2 separate regions of the Homo sapiens genome follow, and region 1 is linked to region 2. Evidence: fine-mapped expression QTL. A gene starts in region 2. The other region holds a variant in brackets. All regions are shown on one strand. Distances are between the middles of the regions.

Evidence for each region.
Region 1: its variant is fine-mapped to the expression of POPDC3 in left ventricle (GTEx, PIP above 0.99). The same link has a PIP of 0.9 or more in tibial nerve.

The regions. Positions count from the first base shown.
Region 1 is chr6:105,149,069-105,165,457 of GRCh38, reverse strand. POPDC3 (popeye domain cAMP effector 3) reads left to right here. Exons shown (of 4, transcript NM_022361.5): 2 at 3,298-4,033; 3 at 5,639-5,747; 4 at 6,707-7,558. The coding sequence starts at 3,549. The coding sequence ends at 6,988. The region is part of intron 2 of POPDC1-AS1 (POPDC1 antisense RNA 1); the gene reads right to left. Among named protein-coding and RNA genes, the nearest start is that of POPDC1-AS1, 20 kb to the right of the region's middle. The variant A/G (reference allele first, on the strand shown) is at 7,315.
Region 2 is chr6:105,172,086-105,188,474 of GRCh38, reverse strand. It overlaps POPDC3 (popeye domain cAMP effector 3), which reads left to right and starts at 8,461. Exons shown (of 4, transcript NM_022361.5): 1 at 8,461-8,642.

The DNA.
Region 1 (16,389 bases), 23 kb after region 2:
GGCTCAGAAATACAAAAGCATTTGTCTTTGCCCCTGCTGCCCCTGAGAATTTCAGTCTAGGAGAGGAAACCAGTCAATATTGAATAATACAGCAAATTATTCATGAGCGGCTCTCTGTGTCTCCAGCAGTATTCTAAGAGTTACAGACTGAACAGTACAAGAACTTATAGGGTAAGTCTGAAATATCCATGGTTAGGATTTTTATTTTCTTGGCAAAGCAGCCCTGGAAGAATATCCCACTTGGGTTCCCCAAAACATTAATATTTGATTCACAGTCTTGAGAGCTGGCACTGAATGTTGGAGAGGGTCTAAAGAGGGGCGGACGGGAATTGGAGCTCCATGCCACCACCTGTTTTACCTGAAGCCAGAGACTCAACCAATCTGTGCCCTTCTTTTCTCATTTGTAAGCTGGACATGATGATTTAGATTCTGCCTCCCTCGTGGCAATGAGATAATAAATGCAGAAGTTCTGTTGCAATAAATGCAGTTTCTAGCTAATTTGCCAGCAGGTTTACTTTGCATTTCATTGAGCATCCTTGTATCTTCATTTACATTTCCTATTCCTTTATAACTCGTAATCTTAACAATTTAAAGAGAAAAAAACCCAGATGAGCTTGGAACAACTGTGTTTATTTGCACTTAAGTTTGTCTTCATCATTTGTAGCTCAGTGTGCTAACTTACTTTGCAGTGAAGATCAACTCTAGTGCTTAGGAAAGAAATCCATTGTGCCACTTTGGCATGTCAGCATTTATTTACGCAAAACATGACCTCAGGCTTACAGGCCTTTAAGGCAGACAGCTGGTTGATGAATCATGTTGGACATTCATATAGTGCTGCTGGCACATGTCAGAAGGACACTCCTGCTCATCACCTGCCCCTGTCAGTTCTTCCACTTCTAATAAAGCATATCTGTTTTGGTGACCAAATAAAAACACAAGTGAAGAAGGGCTGGGTGTGGAGTAATTTAATCAGGGCAAGTCAGCACGCTGCATTGAGCAGTACAGTATCAAGGATAAAAAGATGGTTTGGTAACAGCTGAATGAAACGAAGTAGATTAGTAAAGATGGAAGCACAGTTCCCCTTATAATCATAATGGGTCATGACCCTGGAATGCAGAAGCCCCAATATATCCTACAAATCAAGATTTTTAAGGAGACAGGATTCCCAGAAGTTCCCTTCTGAATTGCCACGAACGTTTTACATGGCCTTTCTCTATTAGCATCATTTTAACATTTCGCTGAGGATTATAAATTTTTAAGGAAGTTCAAACCAAAGTTCAGAGCTCCACTAGCAAATCTTTTTAAACTGGCTTTCGTGGGTGTGTTTGGTATCCTGAAGAATTGATTGATTTAAAATACCCTAGTTTTGAAACAGCAGGGAGACTGACATTTGCAGCCTGGTATTTTGCAGTTCTCACTACTCATTGTATTTGAACAATAATTTTTCTTTGTTGTAATACCCAGTAGAATAAAATTTTGTGCTTTGTTTAAAAGAGGAGAAATTGAACATGTTCAGGATGCTGGCCTGTCTTCAATTTCATCACCATCATCTCGTAGATTGATTGATGGGGAGAATAATTAGGGATATGCAGCATGTTTGAAATGTATTTGAAAACAAGCAAAAACAACAATATGACTATAAGTTGTAAGTCTAAGCTTTTTTTTTCTTTTTTTTTAAATGATTCACCTGGCAGTGTTCTTGAAGTCATTACTTACTGAGAAAAGAATCACTATCCAAGATGAAAAATCAGGAACTTCAACAACAGCTCCTTTATTTCCATTTCTACTTCTGTTGGTGATTACACTGTTCCATTTTTTACTCCAGCTAAGTCATTTTCACCTCTGTATTTTTTCTCCTATGGGGCAAGATCTGTGATATCTGATAGTTTATTAACAGGTGTGCTGGAAATAATCTATTTCAAAAATAAAACACTAAATATAGCACACAAGTTCAAGGCTTTTGAATGTTACCATGGTTTTAAAAAATCAATGTCATGAATGCTTTACACTGAAATCATTTATTGTTAGGAAACTGGGTGGCAAATGATACATATATCCTGTAGCTCTGTCATCATGGCTAATGCTCTCCTGACTCAGATTACATATTAGCATTTCCACCATATGGCTGAAAGGGTAGAGAATGTATGTGCAGAGGAACAGAGTTGGTAATATTTTTGACCATCTGATAAATAAATATGTAAGTAACAGGAATATTAATATTTATTTCATCATATGATGCAAGCTTTAACCTGAAATAACCACTAATACAACAAAGTAGTACATTTGTTTCTCAAATAATTTCAATCTAATTTATTAAATATTTCCATAGTCAATTAATGCTCTTAGAATGTGACTTCTAATTATGTTTCTTATGTTTATTGATATAGTAGGGTTCCTTATCATGCCAAATTTAAAAATCTTTCCTGAGAGGCCACACGATTGGACCCAGCATATGGGCATGAGCGCCAAAGTTCTGCTCTGCCAGTGACCACTGTGTGGCCTGGGATAAATTACCTGACCTCTCTAAGCCTCAAATTAATGTGTAAAGAGTGAATAATCTATTATCAGACAGTATCCCTCAAAGGGTGGGCCATGGAGGACCATGGATTAACACATCAGAATCACATGGGGAGCTTAAAATACAAACATCTGGGCCCCACCCGCAATGATTCTGGTTCATGTATCTGGAAGCAGTCCATGAATCTGCAAATATATATATGTATTAATACAGAGTCTTACTCTTTTCGCCTAGGCTGAAGTGCAGTGGTAAGATGATCTCGGCTCACTGAAGCCTGTCTCCCAAGTTCAAGTGATTCTTGTGCCTCAGCATCCTGAGTAGCTGGGATCCCAGGCGCACGCCACCACGCCTGGGTAATTTTTCTATTTTTAGTAGAGACAGGGTTTCGCCATGTTGGCCAGGCTGGTCTCGAACTTCTGGCCTCAAGTGATCCACCCACCTCAGCCTCCCAAAGGGCTGGGATTCCAGGCACACGCCACCTCGCCCGGCCCGCATTTTTAGTCACTGTCCCGAGTGATTGTGAGGTACACTGAATCACTCCCATAGAGACGAGATTAATATAGAGCACTTAGCTACCTTGAAAAATATGTAGCTAATTTTAATAAATATACTTTTTATACCATAGAAATTTAACACCCAACAGCATTTGTGCTTAAAATACTCTAACTTCATAGAAAATGGGAGGTCAGCTTGCTAAGTAATGCTGCTGATCATTAAATATACCCCACAATTCTCCTTTTTGTTTAATTAGATCCTTTATCTTTTTTTCTCTTGCATAGGAAATACCAAAATATTTGCAGACTGGATCCAAATCAGGAGCCCAGATGAACTTAAAGAAGCGAGCATGGGATTCTTAGTTTTTCAAGATCCGTACACACGAAGCCTTTAATCAGCATCAACTCCAGTGTCCGTTTTCTCTGGTTTTGTGAAGACTGCACAAAACTCTCATGATGGAGAACCAAAGGACTTAGTTACCTGTTTCAGTGTCATCTAAAGTCAACTGAAAAGTGAAGCAGGCAGTAATACAGCCATGGAAAGAAATTCAAGTTTATGGAAGAACCTAATAGATGAACACCCAGTCTGCACAACCTGGAAGCAAGAGGCCGAAGGAGCCATTTATCATCTTGCCAGTATTTTATTTGTAGTAGGTTTCATGGGTGGCAGTGGATTCTTCGGGCTCCTTTATGTCTTCAGTTTGCTGGGGTTGGGTTTTCTCTGTTCTGCTGTCTGGGCTTGGGTAGATGTCTGTGCAGCTGACATATTTTCCTGGAATTTTGTACTGTTTGTCATCTGCTTCATGCAATTTGTTCATATTGCATATCAAGTTCGCAGCATAACCTTTGCCCGAGAATTCCAAGTGTTGTACAGCTCCCTTTTCCAGCCCCTGGGGATCTCTTTGCCTGTCTTCAGAACGATTGCTTTGAGCTCTGAAGTGGTTACTTTGGAAAAGGAACACTGTTATGCCATGCAGGGGAAAACTTCCATTGATAAACTCTCCTTGCTTGTTTCAGGAAGGTTTGTACCTTTGGTGCTTGCATGTCTTTCCTCAAGTATTAGTTGTTTGTGTTTCTTTCCACTATATTTTTCCATCTCAGTATCACATAGTCCTGGGTGGCATTTAGCACCCTGAGGCTTGAGGAAGTCTTTGATACTTGAGTCACAGACATAGCCATTTAGAATATATGGCATTATTTACTTGAAGCAGAAAATAATCAAGAGCCTTAATATTTCATCTTAGAAATCAAATTACATAAAGTATGAATTTGTTTATGTGATATGATATTTGTTTCCTAATTACTGAAAGTCGAGAAGAGGATGATGTCAGCTTGAATTAATAGAATACTTATATTGGCGTGCAAAATATTTTAAAGACTCTTTGATAGGGCTTTCTTTTAAGTAACAGAAAACATTTAAATTTTATTATTATCTTTTTTTCTTCAGTAAATTCTAGCAATTGCCCATGAGAAGCAGGCTGGGGAGACACTTCAGGAACATATATAGAAATCTAAACTTTGAAAACAGGCCAGGTGCGGTGGCTAACACCTGTAATCCCAAAAACACCTGTAATCCCAGCACTTTTGGAGGCTGAGGCAGGATAATCACCTGAGGTCAGCAGTTCAAGACCAGCCTGGCCAACACTGTGAAACTCCCATCTGTACTGAAAAAATAGAAAAACAAAATTATCCAGGCATGGTGGCACATGCCAGTAGTCCCAGCTACTCGGGAGGCTGAGGCAGGAGAACTGCTTGAGCGTGGGAGGCGGAGGTTGCAGTGAGCTGAGATCGCGCCACTACACTTCAGCCTAAGCAACAGAACGAGACTCTATCTCAAAAATAAAATAAAATAAACTTTGAAAACAAAGTTTGGGAGAGGAAACAATAATGGGATTACTCATGGTTTTCAAAAAGTTAAAAATGTGGCTTACAGGCCAGGCGCGGTGGCTCACGCCTGTAATCCCAGCACTTTGGGAGGCCGAGGCTAGTGGGTCACTTGAGGTCAGGAGTTCGAGACCAGCCTGGCCAACATGTTGAAACCCTGTCTCTACTAAAAATACAAAAAACTTAGCTGGACATCGTAGTGCACGCTTGTAATCCCAGCTACTCAGGAGGCTGAGGCACAAGAATCGCTTGAACCTGGGAGGAGGAGGTTGCAGGGAGCCCAGATTGTGCCACTGCACTCCACGCTGGGCGACAGAGTGAGACTCTGTCAAAAAATAAATAAAAAATAAAAATTTGGTTTACAGAGGTATTTGCAGAACTCCTCTATGTTCTTAAATGTTTCCCTACTTAATTTAAAATCTGACAAAGTCCATTAAAATGTTTTATTGAAGTATAATATGCACACATAAATGGACATATATAAATGTACAACTTGATGAATTTTCTGATGAATTTCACTCAATATTCCAGAATCCTGACTGTATAAGGAACATGATAACATGAATCTTACAGGACATTATGTCACTTATTATAATGTATGAATTTAATATTTTGCCTTTCAAAATCATAAAGGGCAAGAGTCATCAGGGATCTGAAATACACTTCCTCTACCCCCCACCCCTCCCCAATTATGTGCTCTCTTTCTCCTTCCCTTATAAATGTTGTTCTTGTGTTTTGATAGGATCAGAGTGACAGTTGATGGCGAATTTCTGCATTACATTTTCCCCCTTCAGTTCCTGGATTCTCCTGAGTGGGATTCACTGAGACCCACAGAGGAAGGCATTTTTCAGGTAAGGGATACCAGAACACACAGTTAGCACTCCCTCTTTCAAACAGATGTTTGTTTAAAAATAAGTAAACAAATAAACAACAGTGGATAAGACAAGAATATTTTAAGACTTTGGAATGTACTTTGCAGCATACATGACTTTCCCAATTCTGCTGGACTCTTGATGATTAATGCCACTTTATAGGTCCAGCGATGAGAAGAACAGGTGCTACATATGACAGGAAGGAGGCTGTGATCAATACTTTAAGCTTTACTTTGCATAACTGCGTATTTAGGAATTAAAATATAATTGAGATTTGACTAAACACTGCTAATGCGACGTCTAGAAAACATCAAGAACAAAAAACTGCACTTACTAAAAAATAAATGATTTTTAAAATTTAAAATGCCAGTGGATTTCAGTTGTTTTACAGCAACAGAATGCTAAACTTACTGTCATTACTCTGCTGCCACGTCTGGCAGTTTTGAAAGATAATCATTTCAGCAGGTTTCATTTATTTTGTTACACAGTTTTCTAACAAATATATGTGTGTATGCAACAAACTCAAATATGTATGCAAATTAGGTATATAAATTCTGTTTTCTACTGCAGAAACTGCATTAGGGTTAAATGTCCACAGTCTTCAGAAGTGACTTGGAAATATTTCTGTAACATCAGCCAACTTTTTTTTTTTTTAAGATCAAGTAGTTCTCCCTTCAATAAAAGAAATGTAGATACTGGAACTTAGAAAAACAGACAGATTGAAGATGGCTAGAACATTGTGATTATTCATATTATAAATTACGTATGTAGTAACGAATTTTGTAGTTTCTATTTTTGCAATATATTGTAGGTCAGTGGGCTTTTTCAACCTAAAAAAAAGGCAGCACGTGAAATTAATTTAACAATTGGGGTACTAAAAATGTGGCAGAAGTTTTCTTGCTTCCACATCTGTTTATGTGTGGTCTTGTGTTTTTTAGGTAACCCTCACTGCAGAAACTGATTGTCGATATGTGTCTTGGAGGAGAAAGAAATTATATCTGCTCTTTGCTCAGCATCGCTACATCTCCCGCCTTTTTTCAGTGCTAATTGGCAGTGACATTGCAGATAAACTCTATGCCTTGAATGACAGGGTATATATAGGAAAAAGATATCACTATGATATTCGGCTACCCAACTTCTATCAAATGTCAACTCCAGAAATACGCAGATCACCCCTGACACAACATTTTCAGAATTCCAGACGATACTGTGATAAATGACATCAAAGTCTGAAATTTATAAGTATAAAAAAAGACTCTCTCTTCATCATTCCCCAGTGAAATAGCAAAATACAAAAAAAGAGCTCCCTAATGTTTTTATAAATCAAATTCAGAAGCGAGATGCCATTGCCAACTGTTTTATTCCTTTCAACAACTGCATTGTGAATAAACTTTACAAATTTTTCTTGTATTTCTCATTGTTATAATTGGGGAGGGGGTGGATAACTATGGGCAGTTTGCCCTTTTCTGCATCAAAACTGGGAGAATGAAATTCCACTTTCTCAATTCTTTTCTCACATTTACTCAAATGCATTGTCTTGCCCTAT[A/G]GACTCAGGAGTTGCTTCTCAAGAAAGAGCCAGCAAGTATTCTCAGCCTGAGGGTGGGTTGCTACTGTCCACATAGGCATTTCCGGAATTCACTTTTTTGCTACAACCTCCAGTGAAAGCAATTATTTATTTTAAATGTGCAGTTACTTGATGCGACTAAAAAGTAGAATAAATGCAAGAGATAATAATATGTGAATCTTGAAGCCTATTTTATTGCTACAAATAAAATAACATTTAAAAAGAAGCATTTCCTGGAAAACAAAGCTGCCTGATCATTACTAAGTCAAAAGAGTACTCCTGAACCAATAGTAAAAATGTTGCACGGTGTTTCAGTTTCACGTGTTCAGCAGAAAGAGCTTTCAGTGGTGTGAATGGGCAGCGAGGGTTCACAGGGAATGCTCAGCCCACCGCACAAACACAAGGGTCTGCCTCACAGCGAGTGCTTCAGCTTTGTGAAGAGCTTAAGAAAGAACCCTAGTTGGAGATCTGATCCCTTCCTTTGGAAAACTGGTTTTCTGAAGATCACATGCAGACTATGTTCTTTGATACAGAGATACATTATCAAATATTTAACAAGTGTGTATTGAGCACCTTCTATGGCTGACATGGGCATGGGGATACATCAGGTAACAGATGGAGATCCCACCCCTCATAAAGCTTACATTCTGGGGATGCGGGAGACATAATAAAGTAAATCAGTAAATGTTTAGAAGGTGATAGTACCAAGGGGAGTGATAAATTAGAGAAGGTGGGTAAGAAAGGGCATTGCAATTTTAATAGGGTGGTCAAGGAAAGTATCCACAAAAAGGAATGTCTGAATGAAGACCTGAAAGAGGCAATGGAAGAATCCATGCAGATATCTGAGGGAAGAGCAATTTGGGCAAAGGGGACAGCAACTGAGCAGGCCCTTAGGCATGAACATGACTGGCCTGTTCCAGGAGCAGCTGGAAGGCTAGTTTGGCTGGCACAGAATGAACAGAAAGTAACCGTGGGCAGACTGGGTAAGGCCTAAATAAGTCATGGTAAGGACTTTGATTTTTTTCTAAGAGTGACCAGAAGCCATTGTAGGGTCTGAAGTAGAAGAGTGATATGATCTGCCCCATGGTTTAATAGGATCACTCTGGCTAGCCTGCTGAGAATAGACTAGGGGGAAGAGAGAAAAGAGTGGACTTGGAAAGTAAAATGAGGATTAAGAGTGAGATGCCTGCTAGACGCTGAAGTAGAGTAGACAGCTGGAGATATGAGCCTGGAGTTTCAAAGAAAAGTCTGCGCTGTAGAGACAGCTTTGGGAGTATTTAGCATATACATGGTATTTAAAGCCATGAGTCTCCATGAGATGGCCAAAAGAGTGAGTGTAGATTCAGAAGAAAAATGGTCTGAGGCTTACCTTGGAGCACTCCATTGTTAAGGGGACAAAGCGATGGGGGAAGAATCAGCAAAGGATCTGAGGAAGAGCAGCCAATGAGGTAGAAAGAAAATCAGGAGAGCCTGGGATCCTGGAAGCCAAGCAAAGAGAATTTCTGGGAGAAGGGAGTGATGAACTGTCTCAGATGTGGCTGAGAGGCCTGAGAATGAACCATCGGGTTAAGCAACATGGAAGTCACTGGGGAACTTAACAAGAGCAGTTTTGGTGGAGTGAGCAGGAACAAAAACTCGACTGAAGCAGGTTGAAGGAGAATGAGAGGCAAGAAGTTGGAACAGTAAGGGTAGGTAAGTTTTTCAAGGAGTTTTGATGTGAACTGAAATAGAAATGATCAGTAGCCTGGGCAGAAAGTGGGGTCAAGAGAGGGGGTTGTTATTGATTTTCAGATAAGATGGTGCATTTGCATGCAGATGGAAATAATCCATAAGTGAGGAGTGAACTGCGGGAGTGATGACCTTGAGCAGGTGATGGGATCCAGTGGCCTTAAAGAGAAATATGGACAATTCTTCATGAATGAAAAGAGAAGAGTATCTGTGAGAGTAGTTGCTGGCAAGTGGGAGATGTGGTGAGAGATTGTGAAAGTTCTCCAGTGATTTTCATTTTCTCGGTGACCTAGGAAGCAAAGTCAGCAAGGAGAACGGGAGAGGAAGTACTGGGGTTATGTAAAGGACGTTGCTTTTCCTGTATGTTAGCATCTACCATAAGTGGGACAATGTGACAAGATGTAAATCATTAGTCTGGATGAACTACTGAGCTATTCAAGTTTAGCATGAACTAAAGGAATCACTGGAATGGTTTCTTCTATTTCTTGGCCACACATTGCCATCATGGGCAGCTCTTCCAAGCAGACACGAAGGCAGCTGTCTGCCAGATGCAATCAAAGGCCTTCAGGAAGCACCCACTGGCTTGTCAGTGGGCTTTACAATGGCTCTGGGAGAAATTCATTTCTTGAATCTTTAAGACTTTGAGATATTTATAAAGTATTAAAATGCAGAGCATCCCAGGTAGAAGTCACATCTTAAGTTAGTACTACCAGGTAATAATTTTACAGGGATTAATTATCAGATAGCTTTCTAACCATTAAAGTCAGCAGAGAACAAAGCCACATAGAAATGGGATGTAGACTTTTGGCTCAACTCAGTGGCAGAGGGGACAAGATTTTATATGTAAGTTTCCCAGAAATCTATTTTTACTATAAGGAGAAAGGGGTACAAACATAATGGGATAAAGGGATACTGAAAGAGGAGGTAAAGGGATGCTTTGAAACTTCACAGTCTTCACTTCTGTATAGGGCTGGCACTGTTCCTTGGTGTTAACAGATATGCTATTATCCAATACCTAGGTTTGCACTCAGGTTTTCTCACTTTATTAAAAAAAAAAATCAAAAACCTACAGTGACTTTTAGGTAGCTGTATTGTATGTCTGGTTTGAAATGTCTAGCAAACCACATACTATCTCAAAATAATCAAACCAGATGGAAAGCAGAAATGACACATATCCTAGAAAAATACCTCTGACCTCTGTATCATAGTGCCCCTAAAATTTAATTTTTATTAAAAATTGGGCTCATTTTAGTCTTAGCCTAATTATTTCCATCCTTTGGTTCTCTTGTCATTGATAAGAGTGCACTAAGATGAGCAACAGCTTGTGTTCTTGTGCTAAAAATGCTTTATGGCTTTGTATACAAGATCTGGATATTCATAAATAAATGGACTCTTTGTTCAAAGAGTCTTAAGAATTTCAAGATGGAGATGGCAGAGCATTATGCCAAGTGCGGGGCTCTTGTAAGCCTGGAGCCCTTTGTGACTGCACAGGTCGCATGCCCAGGAAGCTGGCCCTAGCTGAGTTGTTCCTAGACTTTAAGAAATTGGGGTGACTGCCTTGTGATTTTCTGTCCTAATTTTCATGGTCAGGAGGGACTCTGAGAAGTAGTGAGTCCGGGAAAAGAGAGTGGCTTTGGCACAAAATGAGGCCGTAAACACCCCACACCCCAGTCGCCAAAGCAAGTCCCTGGAGGCTGCAGGCTTCTCTCTTGCATGGCCTTTCCTTTACCTGCATATCTGGAGGCTTCCCATCCCCATGGGGCTATTCCTCTGAACTTGATTTGACCCCTGTGCAAATATGAGAAAGGATCAGTGGGATTTGCCTTGGACTCTGCAGCCCCTAGGAACTCATGGTCTTGAGATTAGTCTACTGTAAAGAATAGTATGATGCTCTCTGAGCACTTACAGCTTGAAGAATTTTTCTCTCCTCTTCAACAGGGGAGCAGAAGGAAATTCATTTGCTCTCCGCTCATCTGGATAAGCTCTGGATGCCACATTGTTACACTGCTCAGACCCAGAAAGGCAGAATTAACAGGGCAGTTACAAAGTGAAATTTCCTCAGCTGACAAGAGCCATAAGAAAAACAAACTAGGCAGACAGTACATATTATTGTAAAAGCAATACGTTTACAATTTTATGTATGTGAGATGCTTGGTTTGACAAAAGCCATAAATATACATGCAGCATTGGATGGCACTTTCTAATCGGGTTCCATGTTCTTCCTATACTGCACATTGTTAGAGAAATTAAACTTCAGAAATGATGTGCCAATTTAGTATTACTTGTTAGTAAAAGACAGTTTTTATACAAGTTAAAGAGATCAATGGGTCCAATTAATTCCACTGTTTTTCTTCATTCTACTAAAATTTAACGCATACATATCAATCAAAAATACAAATAAGCATTAGTATGATATAGACCTATTATAATAAAATGCAGGTTTAATTTGATAGAACTGTGTATTATTTCAAGACCGGAACTCTCACAGCTGTGAAAAGATGCAGCAAGACTGAAACACTGGTTACTTTAACTCTTAGTCATCTCATCGTAAGTATTACCATGACTGTAATGCTGAATTGTACATTTGCATATAATATCAGCATGATTTGAACATAACTTCAAGTTTTATTGCTATGCTAAATTTGACTAGTTTTAAAACCTACTAGCTATTAAAGATTGGCAGGGAACTTTAAAACACTTTTCTCCCTAAGAACTGATAATTTGTGTCTTGAACTGTAATTGTCCCCTTTTTTCTTTTATTCCAATTCAAGCTTTAGTGATCTTAATAAGAGTAATTTTATTTTATTTATAAGATTCTAAAATATTTGTTTTTACATAATTTCATAGAATTTTAGCTCCACTTGATATAATATCAAGTGTCTCAGGCCATCAGAATTGAGATTACTACTCTTATTAAATGTAAATTTACCTCACAAATTATATAATTACAAAACAATGTCTTACATTTATTTAACACTTCATAGTTTATGAAGCACATGCCTACATGTGATTTCATTTGCTTGTTCCTTGGAAGGATCCCATTTTATGGATAAAAATCAGAAAGACTGAATCACAGTTAGTAAACAGTGGTGACACTCAGCTTAAGCCTAATTCTTCTAAATCAGTGTCCTTGCATTTTTCATGCTGCACTGACCATGTTCTTGACTGTGTTCCTGACTTGGAGAGTACTAAAATGTCCCCAGTCTGACTTGAAGGAAAATTCAATGCCAAAATGCTAGTTACACATCTTCCAAATCTGTTAGTGACAGCATGAGGAAAAATTATTCAAACATGAACCTTTCTTCTTTTGAATCATCAGCAGTAGCTTGAGCTCAAATGTGGTTTACAAGTAAAATGTGTCATTAAGTGTAACTCTATTTTAAATGGCTATAAGTTTACATAATGAAAGAACAAGGCCAAGTTTCTTTGATGCAGTTTAAATCAGTTTTTAAAGTTTTGGTTCTGTCCAATTTCATTCAGATATTATCACAGCTCAATTGAGGTCTCTCTCTAGGTATCCTAGAGAGAAGCCTTCATTATCTCAGCCCATCATGTTTTATGTGCCATCCACTCCTTCTTATAAGAAAATTAATTCAGTGCCCCTTGTAGTGCTACTTCTCTTTCTTCTCTCAGGTAGAATAAAACTTTATGTACAATGAAACGTTGTAAAAGCTGAAGTTTTTTCAAATAGCACCAGGTAAGGGTTCCAAGATGTGGAAGAAATTTTTGGTGTAATACAAGTGGGGTTTCTGAAGAACAGGATATTACTGCAGAATATAAGTTGGTTCCTTTGAGATAAAAGTTTAACCAATGCACAAGCACAATGTCCATCTTATGAGAAAAGGAATTCTACTCTGAAACTCTTCCACTAGTCTATATCTTCTTCACTGTTAGAGAACAATGCCTGGCACATGGTAGCTGCTTTGTAAATATTCATTGCATAGAAGGAAATTAATTGCATCTTTATTTTTGAGACAGAGTCTCACTCTGTCACCCAGGCTAGAGTACAGTGGTGCCATCTTGGCTCACTACAACCTCTGCCTCCTAGGCTCAAGCAATCTTCCCACCTCAGCCTCCCCAGGTGCTGGGATTACAGGCGTGAGCTGCCATGCCCAGCCAATTGCATCTATTTTTGTATTTGAATTTTAACATTGAATTCCCTTCTCAAGTTGATTTCAATTATGCAGTGCCACTAGTAGTTTCTCATGAAATAAAATGTAAGAACTATAATAATAGCATTTTTTTATGATATAGAATTATTATTTCCTTAAATGACTTTCAAAGTCACATTTTTTCTTGCTGATACTGTTGAAGTGAGTCTGAACAGCACTTGTTCAGGATGCACAGTTATTAGTCTTTAGGTTCCAAGATCATTTATTGAATTGAAAATCTACAAAATGATTTTTGCTTAGAGATTCTTTGTTGGGAATGTTAAAAGGTAAACTTAGGCAAAACAAAATTTTGAAGAGTTTATTTGGGCAGACAGCAATTCATGAATCAGGCAGCACTAGGCTACAAGTGGTTCAGAGCTTCACTGTAGGGGGACAGGCAAGAGAGAAACTTATAAGGTCCAGAAGCAAGACAAAGAAAATATACTTCAGTGGTTAGTGTGGAAAGTCCCTAGTTAGAGGCTGGTTGGCAATTTCTGATTGGTTAAGCTTAAGTTTTGTTTTACTGTTTACACTGGGCTTTGGTTTTTTTACATAGGAGCCCAAGGCACTGGAGCCACCTCAGCCTAATGGCCTCCCAATTAAATTTTCTTTTTTAACAGAAACATGTAATGGATTATCATGTCCCTCATAAGTGCAGTCAGCCCCCTGTATGTGAGGGTTCCACAGCCACAGATTCAACCAACCTTGGATCCAAAATAAAATGTAAGGCCTGTAATAATAGCATTTTTTTTCCTGCATGATGTAGAATTACTATTTCTTGGAAATAATAATTTGGAAAAAATTTAAAATAACAATACAACACTACAAATAATACAAATAAAAACAATATGGTATAACTATTTACATAGAATTTCCATTGTATTAGGTATTATAAGTAATCTAGAGATGGTTTAAAGTATATGGAAGGATGTTTGTATGCTATATGCAAATACTAGGCCATTTTATATCAAGGACTTGAGCATCCTCAGATTTTGGTATCTGAGGGGGTCCTAGAACCAATCCCCCACAATACCCAAGGATGACTATAATTCCATTTTAAATGATAAATTAAATAATATGGCTCTCACACCCTTTTCCCAGGGATGGCAGAAAACAAACATTTGATCCTGCCATTTAAGAGACATTTCTACAACCCACAGAATGGAAGAAAATATTTGCAAACTATTCATCTGACAAGGGATTAATAACCAGAATATATAAGGAACTTAAGCAACTCAATAGGAAAAAAATCAATCCAATTTAAAAACGAGCAAAAGATCTGAATAGACATTTCTCAAAAGAAGACATGCAAATAAATGGCTGGCAGGTATATGAAAAAATAGTCAACACCACTAATCATCAGAAAAATGCAGCTCAAAACTACAATGAGGTATCATCTCACCCCAGTTAAAATGGCCTTTACAAAAAAGGCAGGGAATAACAGATGCTGGTGAGGATGTGGAGAAAGGTTGGTGGGAATGCAAATTAGTACAGCCACTATGGAGAACAGTATGGTAGTTCCACAAAAAATTAAAAATAGAAGTAACATATGATCCAGCAATCCCACTGCTGGGTATACGTCCAGAAGAAAGGAAATCAGTATATCGAAGAGAATCTGCTCTCCCATGTTTACTGCAGCACTATTCACAATAGCGAAGATATGGAATCAACATAAGTGTCCATCAACAGATGAATGGATAAAGAAAATGTGGTATATAGACAAAATTTTCAGCCACAGAAAATAATGAAATACTGTCATTTGCAACGACATGGATGAAACTGGAGGACAATATTTTAAGTGAAATAAGCCAGGTACAGAGAGACAAATATTGCATGTTCTCACTCATTTGTGGGAGCTGAAAAAAAAACTGAATTCATGGAAATATAAAGTAGAATGATGGATACTAGATACTGAGAAGGGTAGTCGGTAAAGGGGATATGAAGTGGAATCATTAATGGATACAAAAATACAATTAGATAGAATGAATAAGATCTAGTATTCAGTAGCACAATAAATAGGGTGACTATAGTTAACAATAAATTATTGCATATTTTTAATAACCAAAAGAGTGGAATTATAATGTTCCCAATACAAAAAAATGATAAATGCTTGAGGTGACAGGTACTCCAATTACCCTGACTTGATCATTACACATTGTATGCCTGTATCAAAACGTCACATGTACCCCATAAATATATACAACTATTATGTACCCATAACAATTTTTAAATGTTTTAAAAAGATGTTTCTTTCCATTTTAGGCAGTTATTATATTTTATTTTTTAAATTGTATTTATTTTTGCAATGAGGTCTCACTCCATCACCCAGGCTGGAGTGCAGTGGCACGACCCGGCTCACTGCAGCCTAGAACTCCCAGGCTCAAGAGACCCTCCCACCTCAGCCTCCCCAGTAGCTGCAACTACCATGGTATGCGCCACTACACCCAGCTAATATTTTTTTAAGAGATGGGGGTCTCGCTATGTTGCCCAGGGTGATCTTGAACTCCTAATTCCTCCCTGGATCGAATGCAATGTTGCTTGGGTAGTTGGTCTCTGGGTATCTGGGCTGATGGCACCTAGAGTGTGGTTGGCTCTGCTGCTGCCTCTGACTTGGAGGCCTCTGCATTCTTCCCCTATTGCTACGGTCTGACCCCAAGCATTTCCCACCTATCAGACCACTCAGTGTTTCTGAATGAATGAATGAATTCTGAATGAATCTCATGGTTAAACCTTCCCTCTGCTCCACCAGCTCTTTCCACTCCTTCCAAACGTATCTTTTTCAAGTTGTTCCTGTTCCATCATTAATCAGCTAGACAGGACAGGGGAGGAGAGGACGCTGGTGATGGGGAGTATGAGGGTGGGCTGTGGGGTGGGGTGTCACTGTCATGGTGAGACGTCACCATAATTCTAATAAAGTAATATGACCTGGTAGAATATTAAGTGTCACTTTGTTATTTATTCTATTAGAAAAATAATGTATTATAAACAAGTTAGAATAGAAAAAAGAAAAGACAATCATTCCACTATCCTAACCCAATTTCTATTAACATATTGGTATACATTTCTTCTACTGTTTTCCCCATTCATAATAATTTAAGTTGTAAAACATGATTTTTAAAAAGATTTACTGTTTGTTCTATTGGAGAATTTACCGAGTTCCAAATATATGTAAATCATG
Region 2 (16,389 bases):
AATTATAGCCTCCGAGCTTGCGGTTAATATTAAAACCTAAGAAGAACCAATGCAAATTAACATGAGTGATAAGCCTCTGATCAGTAAGGCCCCTCTGGGCTCTAAGAATATGAAAATTCAAAAATTGCCCACCCCACTTAACCACCAGGCCAATGGTAAAATTAGCAGCCTGATCTCAGAACTGTTTCTAGAGCTTGTGTTTCAGCCACACTTTGTTTTGATGATCTTCTGTAAGATCTACTGTTCTTTTTAGTTCTGTAATTTTTAGTCTTGTAACTGTTGAGGGTTTTTGTCTTGTACCTGTTAAAGATGATACTGGTACAAATATTCTATAAACATTTATGAAAGTTATAACTTTAAAAAAGCCAACATGTCTAAACAAAAATGTTTTCAACTACAATTTCTTAATAGAATTGGGTTTGAAGCATACTATAATATGGAAAAATAATCAATAAAAATCTTAAAGTCCTTACAGAGGAATCCACCTTTTCATCTTCTTGTTTTCTCTTCACTTTTGTTGGTTTGTATTTCTATTTTTCAATGACTTCCCATTTCTCTACTAATTCTGAACATTAATTCTCCCCTCTAGAACTCATATATAATTTGTGATTCAAAAATCCCTTTAGGCTACTGAATTACTATTTTTTTTATTTTATTATTTAATATATTTTGAGACAGGATCTCGCTCTGTTGCCCAAGCTTAACTACAATGATGCAATCACAGCTCACTGCAGCCTCAACCTCCCAGGCTCAAGCCTCCCATCTCAGCCACCCAAGTAACTGGGACTACAGGCGCACACCACTGCACCCGACTAATTTTTGTGTGTTTTGTAGAGACACGGTTTTGCCGTGTTTCCTAGGCTGGTCTCAAACTTCTGAGTTCAAGCAAACCACCCACCTCAACCTCCCAGGGTGCCGGGATTGCAGACATGAGCCACTGGTGACCGGCCAGGCTACTAAATTTCAAAATGTGCTTTCTTAATGAAAACCTTAGCAACAAGCCAACTATTACTTATAAGGTAGAAAATTAGACATATTCCATTCACCACTCCCACATATTAAAGCAACTTCTACATCAGAGTGACTTCATATAGTAGTGTGCTTTACTGAACTGCATCTCAAAAGGTTTCCTATTCTCCTGACTAAATCTCCGGCTCAGGTCCTGCTGCCCTAAGGCCTGCTGGGCTCCTACCTACCTAAAAAACAATTGTCACTCTCAGTTCTGGAAGCAGCTCTGACAGCCTTGCCTCTGACGTGTGTGAAGAGGAGAGAAGCTCAAGGACTTTCTATGAGCAAGATTGCAGGAAGAGTAAGGAAGTGGATGGAGTCTTTACAGCAACAAGAAGTGCTTTGATCTATAGCTATGAAATGGACTTGATATTTTAATGAGGGAAAGAGTCAGCTTCTGAGACCAAAAAAGGAGGGGGGCAGATAGATGGACACTGAAAACAAAAGCAAAAGGGTTAGAAACAAATTTAGTCAGGAAGACACAAGACTGGTACATTGAATATGAAAAACATTGCAGAAAGAAATTAGAGAAGACCTAAATAAATGTTCATGTATTGGAAGACTTAAGATAGCAGTATTACCCAAAGTGTTTTACAGATCTTTATAATTCCTATTAAAATACTAATGACCCTTTTTAAGATGTGGAACAAATCATAACATTCATATGGATTGCAGGGGACCACAAATAGCCAAAACAATCTTGAAAAAGGAAAAAAAAGTTTGGAAGACTCATAATTCCTGATTTCAAAACTTACTAGAAAAAAAACAAAAAAATTACTAAGTAATCAAAACAGTGTGGTACTGGCATTAAGAATAGACATATAGGCTGGGCAATGCGGTGGCTCATGCCTTTAATACCAGCACTTTGGGAGCCTCAGGCGTATGGATCACCTGAGGTCAGGAGTTCAAGACCAGCCTGGCCAACATGGTGAAACCCCGTCTCTACTAAAAATACAAAAATTAGCCAGGCATGGTGGCACGTGCCTGTAATCCCAGCTACTCAGGAGGCTGAGGCAGGACAATCGCTTGGACCCAGGAGGCAGAGGTTGCAGTGAGCCAAGATCATGCCACCGCACTCCAGCCTGGGTGACAGAGTGAGACTGTGTCCCCCCCAAAAAAAAAAAGAATAGACATATAGATCAATATATGGAATAAAATTAAAATTGAGAGTCCAGAAATAACCCATATATCTATAGTCAGTTGATTTCAATAAGGGTGCCAATATCACTCCATAGGAAAAGAATAGACTTTTCAACAAATATTGCTGAGACAACTGGATATCTACGTGCAAAACAATGAAGTTGGGTATATATAAATATATAAATATAGATACAAAATGTATCCACAAGATATACACAAACTAACTCAAAATAGATCAATAAACTAAATATAATATTTTAAACCATAAACTTCTAAAACTCTTACAAAAAACATACGGATAAATCTTCATGACCTTGGATTTGGCGATGAATTATTAGATATGATCCCAAAAGAAAGTACAAGCAACAAAAGAAAAATAAATACATTAGAAATCAGCAAGATTAAAAAACTTTTGGGCATTATGGCCAGGTGCAGTGGCTCACGCCTGTAATCGTAGCACTTTGGAAGGCCAAGACGGGGGGATTGCCTCAGCTCAGGAGTTCAAGAACAGCCTGGGCAACACGGTGAAACCCCGTCTTTACTAAAATACAAAAAATCAGCTGGTGTGGTGGCATGCAACTGTAGTCCCAGCTAATCAGGAGGCTGAGGCAGGAGAACTGCTTCAACCCAGGAGGTGGAGGTTTTAGTGAGCCAAGATTGTGCCACTGCATTCCAGCCTGGGTGACAAAGTGAAACTCTGTCTCAAAAAACAAAACAAACAAAACAAAAAACTTTTGGATATCAAAGGACGCTATCAAGATAATGAAAAGACAACCCGCAGAAAGAGAGAGAACACTTGAAAGTTATATATCTTTTTTTTTTTTTTTTTTTTTTTTTGAGACAGAGTCTCACTTTGTTGCCCAGGCTGGAGTGAAATGGCATGATCTTGGTTCACTGCAAGCTCCGCTTCCTGGGTTCAAGCGATTCTCTTCCCTCAGCTGGGATTACAGGTGCCCGCCACCACGCCCAGCTAATTTTTGTATTTTTAGTAGAGATGGGGATCACCATGTTGGCCAGACTGGTCATGAACTCCTGACCTTGGGTGATCCTCCCACCTTGGCCTCCCAAAGTGCTGGTATTATAGGCGTGAGCCACCATCCCGGGCTGAAAGTCATATATCTGATAGAGGTTGTCTGGTATCCAAAATATACAAAGAACTCTTACAACTCTACAACAGAAAGACAAGCAACCCAACTGAAAAATTGGCAAAGGACTTAAACAGGCATTCCTCTAAAGATATGCAAATGCCCAACAATCACATGAAATGACATTCAACATCATGAGTCATTAGAGAGATGCAAATCAAAACAATGAGATACTACTTCACACCCACTAAAATAGCTATATTTTAAAAAAAGAAAATAATAAGTGTTGCCAAGAATGTGGAGAAATAAGAACACTCATACATTGTTAGTAGGACTGCAAAATGATACAGTTGTTATAGAAAACAGTTTGGTAGTTCCTTAAAAAAATAAACATGGAATTACCATATGACCCAGCAATTCTTCCCCTAGGTGTATAGCCAAAAGTATTCAAACAAAAACTTACACACAAATGTTAATAGCAGCACTATTCACAATAGTCAAATGGTGGAAATACCCAAATGTTCATCAACAGATAATGGATTAACAAACTATGGCATAATAAACAATGTAATATTATTTAGCCATAAAAAGGAAGAAGTTTCTACATGCTACAATGTGGATTAACCTCAAAAACATGATGCCAAGTGAAAGAAACCAGACATACAATGTCATATGTTGTATGATTCCATTTATATTAAATATCTAGAATAGGAAAATCCATAGAGACAAAAAGCAGGTCAGTGGTTCCCAGGGGAGAAAGGGGAATTGGAAAGTGAAGGCTTTATGTGTATGGAGTTTTCCTTTGGGGGGATGAAATGTTTTGAAGCTAGATAGAGGTGTTTGGTGCACAACACTCAATGTGCTAAATGTCACTGACTTGTACATTTTGAGATGGTTACTTTTATGTTATGGTTATTTTACATCAAATTTTTTTTTTAAAAGATGGTTGGCCGCTAATGTACAACCCACTGCAGTCGTTGGCAGTTATTTTATAAATGTATATTTGCTGACAGATATTTTCATAATCGTCATTATGAATCAGGTTATAAAATAAATTATAAATTAAATTTTAAAGATTATAAATGTTAAATTAAAACAAATTATAAATTTTTACAAAGCAAAAGAGCAAACCAAAGAAGAGAAAAAACTGAGAAAGAGAGGGAAGAGAGGCAGGAAACATGAGAGAAGAGAGAGAGAAGGAGGAGGAAGAAAAGGAAAATGCAAAACAAGAGAGGAGAACAGGAATATGAAAGAGAGTTAGAGCAAAAATTTTAAAGTTGGGTAATATCAGGTGTCACTGGGGGTTGTGAAGAAAGGAGAGTGCAGGAAGGAGCACTCTCCTACATACCTGGTAGGGATATAAATGGACACAGACACTCTGGAGCACGATTTGTCAGCAGCAAATAAAATGAAAATGAACATACTCAGAGCCCTACTTCTGAGCATATATTCTGGAGAAATCATCACATATGTGTCCAAGGAGCATGCACACAGCATTTGTTTGCTATATCAAATGCTAGAAATAGGCCCAGTGCGGTGGCTCATGCCTGTAATCTCAGCACTTTGGGAGGCCAAGGCGGGTGGATCACTTGAGGTCAGGAGTTCAAGACCAGGCTGGCCAACATGGTGAAACCCCATCTCTATTAAAAACACAAAAATTAGCCAGGTATGGTGGCAGGTGCCTATAATCCCAGTTACTTGGGAGGCTGAAGCAGGAGAATCGCTTAAACCCAGAAGGCAGAGGTTGCCGTGAGCCAAGATTGTACCACTACACTACTCCAGCCTCGGTGACACAATGAGACTCTGTCTCAAAAAAAAAAAAAAAAAACTACAAAAAACCTAAATAGTTAAGAGGATGGATGCACTGTGATATGTTTGTGAAAACAAGTAAAAATCTAAGCTGTTGGAACTTTAAAACATTTTGAGCCTTAAGGGAATCTGATTATGGGATCTGAGTCACATGTAAACAGGCAGCTATAAAGTAGGCAGCTGTGACCTTTTGTTTTTCTGATTAAGATTAGCCTTTGTCTTTACCTATGTTGTTTTGTAAAATGTTATAAATGACTAAAGGGTACCAGGGAAGACCCCTTCTCTCTTAACTGTTGATCTTCATTATAGAGTAACTTCCCTCTTTCCTCTCTCACACAGACTTCATGACTATCACATTGTCTAAGATGGAATGTTAAATACACTCTTTTAAATAGGAAAAGAAAACAAGCTGTATGGAAAAGAAAACAAATTGTAACTAATTAAATTGTTGTAAGTCATAAACCAGCCTTGTATAGAAAATGTTATAATCCTACTAAGTTTCTTTGTTTTCTGCTGGTATATGCAAGATCTTAACTTTGGAGCACTAACTCCATTCCTTTGGAGTCTGTGTTATCTGAATGGCATTCTCAGCTTTTCACTTGGAAAAATGCTTTTAAACTGGATTCTGATCCTTTCCATTATTTCAGGTAGACATACTAATAATATAATAGTATATAGTCATTTAAAAGAAGAATTTTATATATACTATATATGTGAAAAGATAAATGAACTTCAAGGTATTTTGTTGTCTGGAAAAGAAAGTTGGCAGATACAGTATAATGCCAAGCAATATATCTTAGTATATTGAATTATATTCATGTATTACTTATACAATAAAATGTATAATAACAAAAAATGAGGGATACAGAGAAAGAGAACTCTGCCATGATCAAGGCAAGAAAATACATGTGAAGGAGTAAGAAAGAGAAAAATCAGAATGCAGCAGGGCAGCAGTATTTAACACAAAATTTTCAAAGAGGGATCGCACTCTGTATATACTCTCAAAATTTGGGTCGGGGGGTGCATTTAGGAGTCCAGGCATGGATTAAGTAGATCCTCTGCTCAGGGTTTCACAAAACTGCAATTAAGGTGTCATTGGTTTGTGTTCTCATGTGGATGATTGACTGGGGAAAGATTTACTTCCAAGTTCACTTAGGCTGTTGACAGAATTCATTTCCTGGAGTTTGTAGGACTTCTTGCTGGCTGGCTATGGGCCGGAAGCTGCCTTTCAGCTCCTAGAGGCTGCCCATGGTTCCTCACCATGTGGACTTTCCAAGCATGGCCACTGCCTTCATCAGGCCAGACCGGACAGTCTCTAGAGAGAGTCTGTTCATAAGAGACAGTCTTTTATAATGTAATGTGGTCATGGGAGTGATATCCATCACCTTTGTTATATTTATTTTCAGAAGCAAGTCACAGGTCCCAACCCCTCTTAGGAGGAGGGGATCTAACACAGGTATGAACATGAACAGGTACTGGGAATCAGAAACTATTGGGGCCACTGAAGAATCTGTCACACAGGGATATCTTTGTTGCATTGAGACAGGAAAGCTATTTTAAGATGGTGTGGTGAAAAAGGATAAAAGCTCCTTACTCAAGCTCTAGCTTATCTAACTCTCAGTCAATAGGTAACAAAACACCCAAGAAGCTGTTAACTGCAAGCTCCTATTTCAGAGGGCTAGGGACTTCCCCAGATCCCCGCCTGTACAGTTAGACTTAAACTCCAACCTACATTTACCCCTTCCTCACTTTAATGCTAAAAATTACTCCTGGGGTGGAGATTTAAAATGCTAATGCTACATATGATGTATGAAAAAGCATATTGGGCCACTGTGCAAGCACTAGAAAAACTCCTCCTATAGGTGCCCTGATGTAACCCTCCCCTATAGAAAGACCCTATAAAACTGACCCACACACTATCCTCAGAGCAGTCCGTTCCTTTGCCTTTCTTGGTGCTGACTCCCTTGCGCACAAGCTGAATACACTTTCCTTTGCTGCTATGTTTGGTGATCTCTGTTAATCTCTATCATGGGAGATCATAAGAATCCAGGGCAACAGTAACAGCTTCTGAGTTTTTAAATTAAAAATAACAGTAATATAATCCTTAAATTTTTAAAATGTAGGACACTAAACAAGTAAAATCTAAATCCAGAGTACATCTGACCTCAAAGTTCATGGGCTTCTCACTTCCCTGGCCATAGTTTAAAGGTGTGTGTGTGTGTATATATATATATATACATATATATACACACACACACACACACACACACACACACACACACACTATGGACTACATCCAGTTCAAACTGGATTTCCAACATTTGAGTAAATCCCTGCAATGAAGAGAAAGAGCAAAGGCCTAGGAGTCAACTGGTTTCTAGCCATTTCTGGGGTGTAAGAATATGTGTATTTCTTGATCCTCAGTTCCAGCATCAATTAAAGGGAGTTAATTTTACCATCTATATTCACTGTTTTTGTGGTTACCCTGGGGCTCAAAAAAGACACTGATTGCTCAATAAATTCTTGTTCCTGGAGTCGCTGTTATCAATATGGTTATATAAAATGAAAGCGAACTAGAAGACAGGAGATGACATTCTTAAATTAGTGGCGTGTTTTACTGGTCGTCACCAACCCTCACATTTGTTTCATCACAAAAACAAAACAAAACTTTGCTAATTGCAAAGGAAGAAAAAATGCACCTGATCATTGCTTTAAAATTGTATGCATTTGGTTATTACTGATATGAGCTTTTTGTCATTTGTGTTTTTAAATTTTTTCCTTTTATGATTGTCTATGCCCTTTACTCATTTGCTTTTAGAGATGTTCATTGATTTGAATATAGATATTTTATTTTTCATGCAACAGTCCGTATTTATTGGTTGGGTGCGGTGGCTCACATCTGCAATCCTAAGCTTTAGGAGGCTGAGTCAGGAGGATGCCTGGGCCCAGGAGGTCGAGATTGCAGTGAGCCGTGATCACCACTGCACTCCAGCCTGGGTGACAGAGCGAGACACCATCTCTAAAAAAAAAAAAAATACTATATTTACCTCTCTCTCTCTCTCTCTCTGTCCAATACACCCTAATATTCCCGTCCCCACTATGGTGATTTACCTCTTCATTTTGTTTACGGTGTGTGTGGAGCGGGGGTGAGAGAGCAGGCGTGCAGTTGCCTTGGTTCAGCAGCCAGCCCATCGCTCCTGCCTAGTGTGACTGTGAATACTAGGTGTATGTTACAACCGGGAGCGGTGTACACTCGGGGAACCGCATCTTTGGAAACTTCGGTCCGTAGCGGCCGCTAGGATTCTCCGCAGCCCCGCACCCCGGTGGCCGAACCGCCTGCCCCGGCCCAGACGCAGCCGCCGCGCCCGCCCACCCGGCTGCGCCCCGGGGCGCGCGCCCGTGCCCGGCACCCGCCCGCGCCGCCGCGCCGCTCCGGAGCCCGCTGCGGTCACGCTGCGCCCGGCGCCGCAGGGTGGGCGGCGAGGCACTCACGAGGGGGACGCTGAGGGCTTCCGCGCGGGCCACCCGGGTCAAGCGCGCTCCGCCGGGAAACTTCTGCGGGCGCCGGGCTGAAGCTCCGGGCAGGGCTGGGAAGGAAAGGTAAGAAGGTGAGCCCGGGGGCGCTGCGTCCGCCGCCTTCCGGTGCTGTCCGCACCCTCGCACCTCGCGGCCGCTTCGGGCAACTTAGCGGGCGCGGCTTCTGCTGGGCCGCCGACCCCTGCGAGCGCTTGCGTCTCGCTGCCCCGCGCTGCCCGCGCCGCTCCCTTCCCGGCTCCGGTCAACTCCGCGCCCTGGGGTCCGGGGTCTGGGGTCCCGGCTGTGTCGCCGCTCACAGCTCGGAGGTCTAGGGGATCCTTTGCTGCGGTTCCTATCCGCGCCGACCCCTGAAGAACGCGAGTCGTATGCCCTAGAGGCTTCTGGGCGAATATTCCTCCCAGATCTTTTCCTGCAGGTCCTACTCTGGCCCCAGGCACCCTGGAGCCGAAATAAACAGGCCAGTTTTGCAAGGGAGAAAAGCCGTTCCTAGGGGCCCTTGTCAGTCCTGGGGAAGTCATGCCAGCGCCGGGAGTTTCCTTCCCCCCTACTCCCGCCCCCGGTCTGTAAGCAAAGGGCCTGACTGGTGTCAGTGCTCTCACACTGTTCTCACAGAGTTGGGGGTACAAAAAAGCTGCCTCATCAAAGGTCGCGCGGACCTGTTTTCTCCATTTGGGGATCCCCCTGCCAAAAAAGAAATTTGCCAACCCCTAAATTGTCTTATCACCATGTCGGTTACAGTGGTATAGTTTTGAGGGTCTGTATTTTAGGCAAAGATGAAAGGCACAACCAAAATACAGTAAGAGGGGCAGTGCCAAAAATTTAGCCAGAAGACATTTGCAGAAAGTGAAAAATTCTGTTTGTAAATAATAAATGGAAAAGTAGAATTAGAAGCCCACTTTTGGACGCAATTTGATTTACTAAACTTCGTTGCTTCCTGACTTTTCACTCTAATTCCGGTAGTTAGATATTTTGAATTTGCAAGCCTACAAACTGCAATTGAGTTTTATAGCAGCCTTAAAAAATTATTGTTGCCTGTTCATACTAAGTTTAGTGGCTATTTTTTTTCCTTCTTGTTTTTAATTCTACGGACTGTTGCATGAAAATATCCTCTTGTGAGAGTACAATAACTTGGCATTGTTCTTTGTGACAATAGAAAACCAAACAAGAACTACATGAGACAGAAAATATAAACAAAAAATTGGATCTCAGTTTCCATATTCGCAAAATGAAGAGCTCTGGCTGATCCCAGATTCCAGATATCTCTGAGGTTCTGTCCTGAAAAATCTGTGTGTGTGTGTGTGTGTGTGTGTGTGTGTGTGTGTGTGTGTGTGTCTTCAGGAGTTTGGGATACAAATATTAATTGAAATCTAAGATATTCTCTGTCCTCAAAATTTTATACATTTAAATGGGAAATATTTGATAGTTGAGTTTCTTTAATCATATCAGTCCCTCAAAATAGCTGAATCATGGTGCATCTTCTGCCTCTAAATGGTTACATTCTATGCTATTAAATAAAAATGTGTCATGGGAAACAAAAGTCCCATACTTTTCACCACAAGACTGACTAATACGGTTGACACACTAGAGCACTGATGCCTGCTTATTTTGAAACAGTCTCCAGGAAGAATTAAGAATGTTATGAAGCATTTGCTACAGTATGTGAGCATAACACATAAGCAACATGGCAGGCAAGAAATTTCAAAACTGCTTTGGAAATATCCATGATAGATCTGAAAGTCTGTAAACTGCAGTTGAGATCACATTTTGTAATTATGGTCATTGGTCAGTTGGGATTATGAGCTCCCTCGAGAGAATGTCCCTCCAATTAATAGAAGAGTATATCGAATCACCGATTCGATTGTTTTAAAGGAAGAGAGAAAATGTTTCTCCCTTTTATCTAAGTAGTTATAAGAAAAAGTCTTACAAGGAAAATTACATCAGGTGTTTTCTAAATTAAATAAATAACCGAAAGTTCCTGACTGAAATTACCTATAAAAATGCAGGGTCCTCCTCCAACCCAGAGAATCCAGGGATTGATTCACACAGACTTTTAGCGAGACTTTCTTACTTTGTGTTCTTCAACAGAATAATAACCTCCAGTGACTCTGGCACACTGAAATTGGCTAGGATGGGATCATGAAGGAAGGTGTTGTGGGGTAGTATTGGAAGGACAAGCAACTGGCTAAGCTTACAGAAGAATCTCCATCCCTCTGAGCTTCATCTTCCACTCTGAACAATGCTGACAATAGTATGTAGGTTTCAGAGTTGCTGTGACTCCTAAATGGATCTGTTTTAGGAATTAGTACCTGCACAGAGAAAGAGCACAGCTGATCTTGGTTCTTCCTGTCTTCTTTGGAAGGTGTTTGTTTCCTAGCTGAACAAATTGCAGCTGAACTGTAGATAACAGCTTTTGCTTTTAATTTCAAAATTCTGTGTGGCAAAATCTTGATAATTGTTGAATCTGGGTAACAGGTATATGGGAATTTGTTGTATACTATTTTCTCTATTTTTGTATGTGTTCAAAATTATCAGAAAAAAATTTAAGTGTGAATCTGAAAAAAAAACCCCACACTTTGAGTTATTTCTAGTCCAGGATTTCATTTTACATTGTCTGTTTCATTTTACATTGTATTTTTTAATTAGTGAATATTTAAATATAGAGAAATATAAATTATGTACTATATAGGGAGTGGATGGGCAGCGACTGGTCCTGGAGAACAATCCATGGCAGTCTTCAATTTTTTGTGTGGAATATTTTTTATTATGAAACAATCTAAAGAAAATATGACAGTGTTGATGGTTGTTAATTCTGGTTGTTGGGTTCATGGATTTTTTTAAATGTTTATATTTAAAATTTTTTTACATTGGTATAAAATCACCATATTGTTTCCCAAAATCATTATAAGAATACAAATAATGCAGCTGTTTTTAAAAAGGTAAAAATAGTTTCTATCCCACTATCAAGATATATTCATCTTTAACATGAAGTGAAAATCATTGCGTATGTCTTTCTATTTTTACACAAATAGGATATGTTGGTCGGGCTTGGTGGCTCACGCCTGTAATCCCAGCACTTTGGGAGGCTGAGGCGGGCGGATCACCTGAGGTCAGGAGTTTGAGACCAGCCTGGCCAACGTGGTGAAACCCCGTGTCTCTACTAAAAATACAAAAATTAGCCAGGCGTGGTTGCGTGCGCCTGCAGTCCCAGCTACTTGGGAGGCTGAGGCAGGAGAATTGTTTGGACCTGGGAGGCGGAGCTTGCAGTGAGCTGAGATCGCGCCACCGCACTCCAGCCTGGGTGACAGAGCAAGACTCTGTCTTAAAAAAAAAACGATATGTCAAAAGATTAAAAAGAAATGCTTTTATAAAAAATAGAATTGTTAAATAAGCAGGAGGCCATTAGCCTGAGTCTTTCTCCCTACTTTGAGTCCCTGTGTGAAAAACTAACTTTGTACATAAACGAACAGAAAACTAACTCAACAGTGTATTTTTTGTAATAGCCAGGTTTCAGCCAATCACAGGCGGCCAGCTCATCACATTATGCCCAAATAAAGCAGATGCAGAGCTGTAGCCAATCGAGTGATTTTGGTTTTTTACTTCTGTCATCAGTGTATAAAAACTGCAGCTCATGCTGCTGGATAGAGCTCTGTGAACCTCTTCTGGTTGTGAGTGCTGCCTGATTCGTGAGTTGTTTGTTGCTCAGGTAAACTGTTAAATTGAATTTATCTAAAGTTTTTCTTTTAACAGGATGATACTATATATGCTTTTTAAAATAAAAAAATTATATTTTAACAGAAGAAACTGTAGTGAAAGTGAAGGAATTGCTGAACTTGACATCAGTATTTCTTCATTCTTAGAGATAAACAAGTCTTCCAAACTAAGAGAAAAGTTTCTGAATACATCTTGAGATCAAGATTTTTTAAACATACATTAATTTAGACAGTCAGAGGCTCCCTGTTATAAAGGATGGAGCACTGGGCACTCTTACATTACCTATAGTTTCACTTCTACTCATATCCCAGTTTTTATTCTTTCTTTCTTTATTTATTTTTTGAGACAGAGTCTCACTCTGTCACCCCAGGCTGGAGTGCAGTGGTGCGATCTTAGCTCACTGCAACCTCCGCCTCCTGGATTCAAGCAATATCCCTGCCTCAGCCTCCCAAGTAGCTGGGATTACAGGCATGCACCACCATGCCCGGCTAATTTTTGTATTTTCAGTAGAGATGGGCTTTTACCATGTTGCCCAAGCTAGTGTCAAACTCCTGACCTCAGGTGATCCTCCCACCTCTCCTCCCAAAGTGCTGGGATTACAGGCATGAGCCACTGCGCCTGGCCTATTTTTTATTTTTTTAATTTTGGAGACAGGGTCGCATTGTGTCACCCAGGCTGGACTGTAGTGGCATGATCACAGCTCACGGCAACCTCAGCCTCCCAGGCTCAAGCAGTCCTCCCACCTCAGCCTCCCATGTAGCTGGGACTACAGGCATGCACCATGGCACCCAGCTTTTTTTTTTTTTTTTGGAGAGTTAGGGTCTCACTGTGTTACCCAGGCTGATCTCAAACTCCTAGGCTCAAGGCATCCTCCCACCTCAGCCTCCCAAAGTGCTGGGATGACAGGCATGAGCCACTATACCCAGCCCCAATTTTAAAAATATGTTTATATTGTGAGGATCTATAACATTTGCATTGTGTTTTGTAAACTTCATTTCAGATACAATTTTTTTTTTTTGAGATGGAGTCTTGCTCTGTTGCCCATGCTAGAGTGCAGTGGAGCATTGTTGGCTTACTGCAACCTCAGCCTCCCGGGTTCAAGTGATTCTCCTGCCTCAGCCTCCTGAGTAGCTGGGATTACAGGCGTGTGCCACCACGCCCGGCTCATTTTTGTATTTTTAGTAGAGATGGGGTTTCACCATGTTGCTCAGGCCAGTCTCGAATTCCTGACCTCGTGATCCACCAGCCTCAGCCTCCCAAAGTGCTGGGATTACAGGTGTGAGACACCACGCCTGGCCATTTCAGATATAATTTAGTCTTAGTTTTATAACTAAATGAAATCACGATGAATCACTGGTTCTTTTACCATGGCATCTCAAGTATCAACTTTTGATTCATCCTTTGATTGGCTAGATTTTGTCAGTGTGTCTGTTTGTTTCCAAGAAGGGCTCATTTCCTGTGTCTTTTTATGTTTGAAATGCCCATGTTTCTTTCCAGACAGTCCCTGACTCACAATGGTTTGACTTAACCATTTTTCAACTTTATAATGGTGCAGAGACAATACACAGTCAGTATGCTCAACTTTCGGTGTGGTTACACCCAAGTAAACACATCATCGTCATAAATTGAGAAACTGTAAGTCAAACGTGTGTTTTCAACTTACGATATTTTCAGCTTACCATGAGTTCATTGTACATTGGGGAGCATCTGTACTTGAATGACCATTTGGCTGGCTGTACCATTTTTGAGCCAGTTTCCTTACCTCCGGATTATATAGCCTTCGCTCCATTCACTGCTAGCATCTAATGTAGCTGTAGAGAAGTCTAAGTTTGGTTTCAAAATTTCTGGCTGGGCGCAGTGGCTCACGCCTGTAATTCTAGCACTTTGGAAGGTCAAGGCGGGCGGATCACTTGAAGTCAGGAGTTCAAGACCAGCCTGGCCAACATTGTAAAACCCCATCTCTACTAAAAATACAAAAAATTAGCCGGGTGTGGTAGCGCCTTTAATCCCAGTTACTTTCGAGGGTGAGGCAGGATAATCGCTTGAACCCGGGAGGCGGAGGTTGCAGTGAGCCAAGATTGTGCCATTGCACTCCAGCCTGGGCAACAAGAGCAAAACTCCATCTAAGAAAAAATTTCTTCCTTGCAATTGATTTGCTTTTTCTGCCCGGAGTCCTAAAGTATCCTTTATATTCCTGAAGTGTAGTAATTCAGGCTATATCCTTGTTAAGTTCTGTATCAATTTTTCATGGAACCTGGTGCATTCCTTCTATTTCTGTTCTTTCTATTGGAATAATCTGTTGTTCTTAATTTCAGGGTTTTTTTTTTTCCCATTATGAATGCTTTTTCTTTCCAATTTTGTAATTCTCTACTTCAAAGACACCAATTATTCTCACACTGTCTCATCTTTATTCTCCATAATGATTGTTATCTTGTTTTAATTTCTCCTGTTTTCTTCATTCACTGTACTTGTCAAAATGATTAAAATGTAACTGATTTATAAATGAAAGTGTAGCATGGTATAAACAGAAGCAGGTTAGATATGAGGATATTTGGATTCTAACTCGGCCAAGTCTTTCTTAAAGAGGTTTTCTTGCTTGAAAAATAGGAAAATAACTACCCCTTCCTCCTGCCCCCAGTATTTTTGGAGCTATGAAATAATATACATGTAGTAGTTCACACAGGTTCTGACACAGGGTTGCTACTCAACAGATGCTGGTTATTATTACTTACTCCTCCATTCAAGATGCAGGAGGGGTGGTGTTAGAATTCAAGTTCCAAACACATGTTACATTATAATTGTTCTGGAAGTCACAATGCATGAAGGAGAGCTAGTACCTTTTCCTCTATGTTATAAAGAAAATTTAACCTCCATGAGAAAAAGAGATAAACAGAAGCACTTTAAAACATTCTGTTTGGAATTTATTTTGTGGAATCTCAGCTTATTTTCTGTTGTTTGAGTTCATTTTCAAGTTTATATTAAATCTTGGTAATGCATGGAAACCCACCAACTAGTGGAGCATCCTTGATCAATACTTGGTCAGATATGAAAGGAAATTTAAGATAATGATTCTAATCTCATTAAGACTTTAGACTGTTTTAAAATGTAGCATTTCTTTAAAATTTAGTATGCAACAACTGACTTTTTTATTATACTTTAAGTTTTAGGGTACATGTGCACAACGTGCAGGTTTTTTACATATGTATACATGTGCCATGTTGGTGTGCTGCACCCATTGACTCGTCATTTAGCACTACGTATATCTCCTAATGCTATCCCTCCCCCCTCCCCCCACCCCACAACAGGCCCCAGTGTGTGATGTTCCCCTTCCCGTGTCCACGTGTTCTCATTGTTCAATTCCCACCTATGAGTGAGAACATGCGGTGTTTGGTTTTTTGTCCTTGCAATAGTTTGCTGAGAATGATGGTTTCCAGCTTCATCCATGTCCCTACAAAGGACATGAACTCATCCTTTTTTATGGCTGCATAGTATTCCATGGTGTATATGTGCTACATTTTCTTAATCCAGTCTCTCATTGTTGGACATTTGGGTTGGTTCCAAGTCTTTGCTATTGTGAATAGTGACGCAATAAACATATGTGTGCATGTGTCTTTATAGCAGCATGATTTATAATCCTTTGGGTATATACCCAGTAATGGGATGGCTAGGTCAAATGGTATTTCTAGTTCTAGATCCCTGAGGAATCGCCACACTGACTTCCACAATGGTTGAACTAGTTTACAGTCCCACCAACAGTGTAAAAGTGTTCCTATTTCTTCACATCCTCTCCACTGGACCTGTTGTTTCCTGACTTTTTAATGATTGCCATTCTAACTGGTGTGAGATGGTATCTCATTGTGGTTTTGATTTGCATTTATGTGATGGCCAGTGATGATGAGCATTTTTTCATGTGTTTTTTGGCTGCATAAATGTCTTCTTTTGAGAAGTGTCTGTTCATCTCCTTCGCCCACTTGTTGATGAGGTTGTTTGTTTTTTTCTTGTAAATTTGTTTTGAGTTCATTGTAGATTCTGGGTATTAGCCCTTTGTCAGATGAGTAGATTGCAAAAATTTTCTCCCATTTTGTAGGTTGCCTGTTCA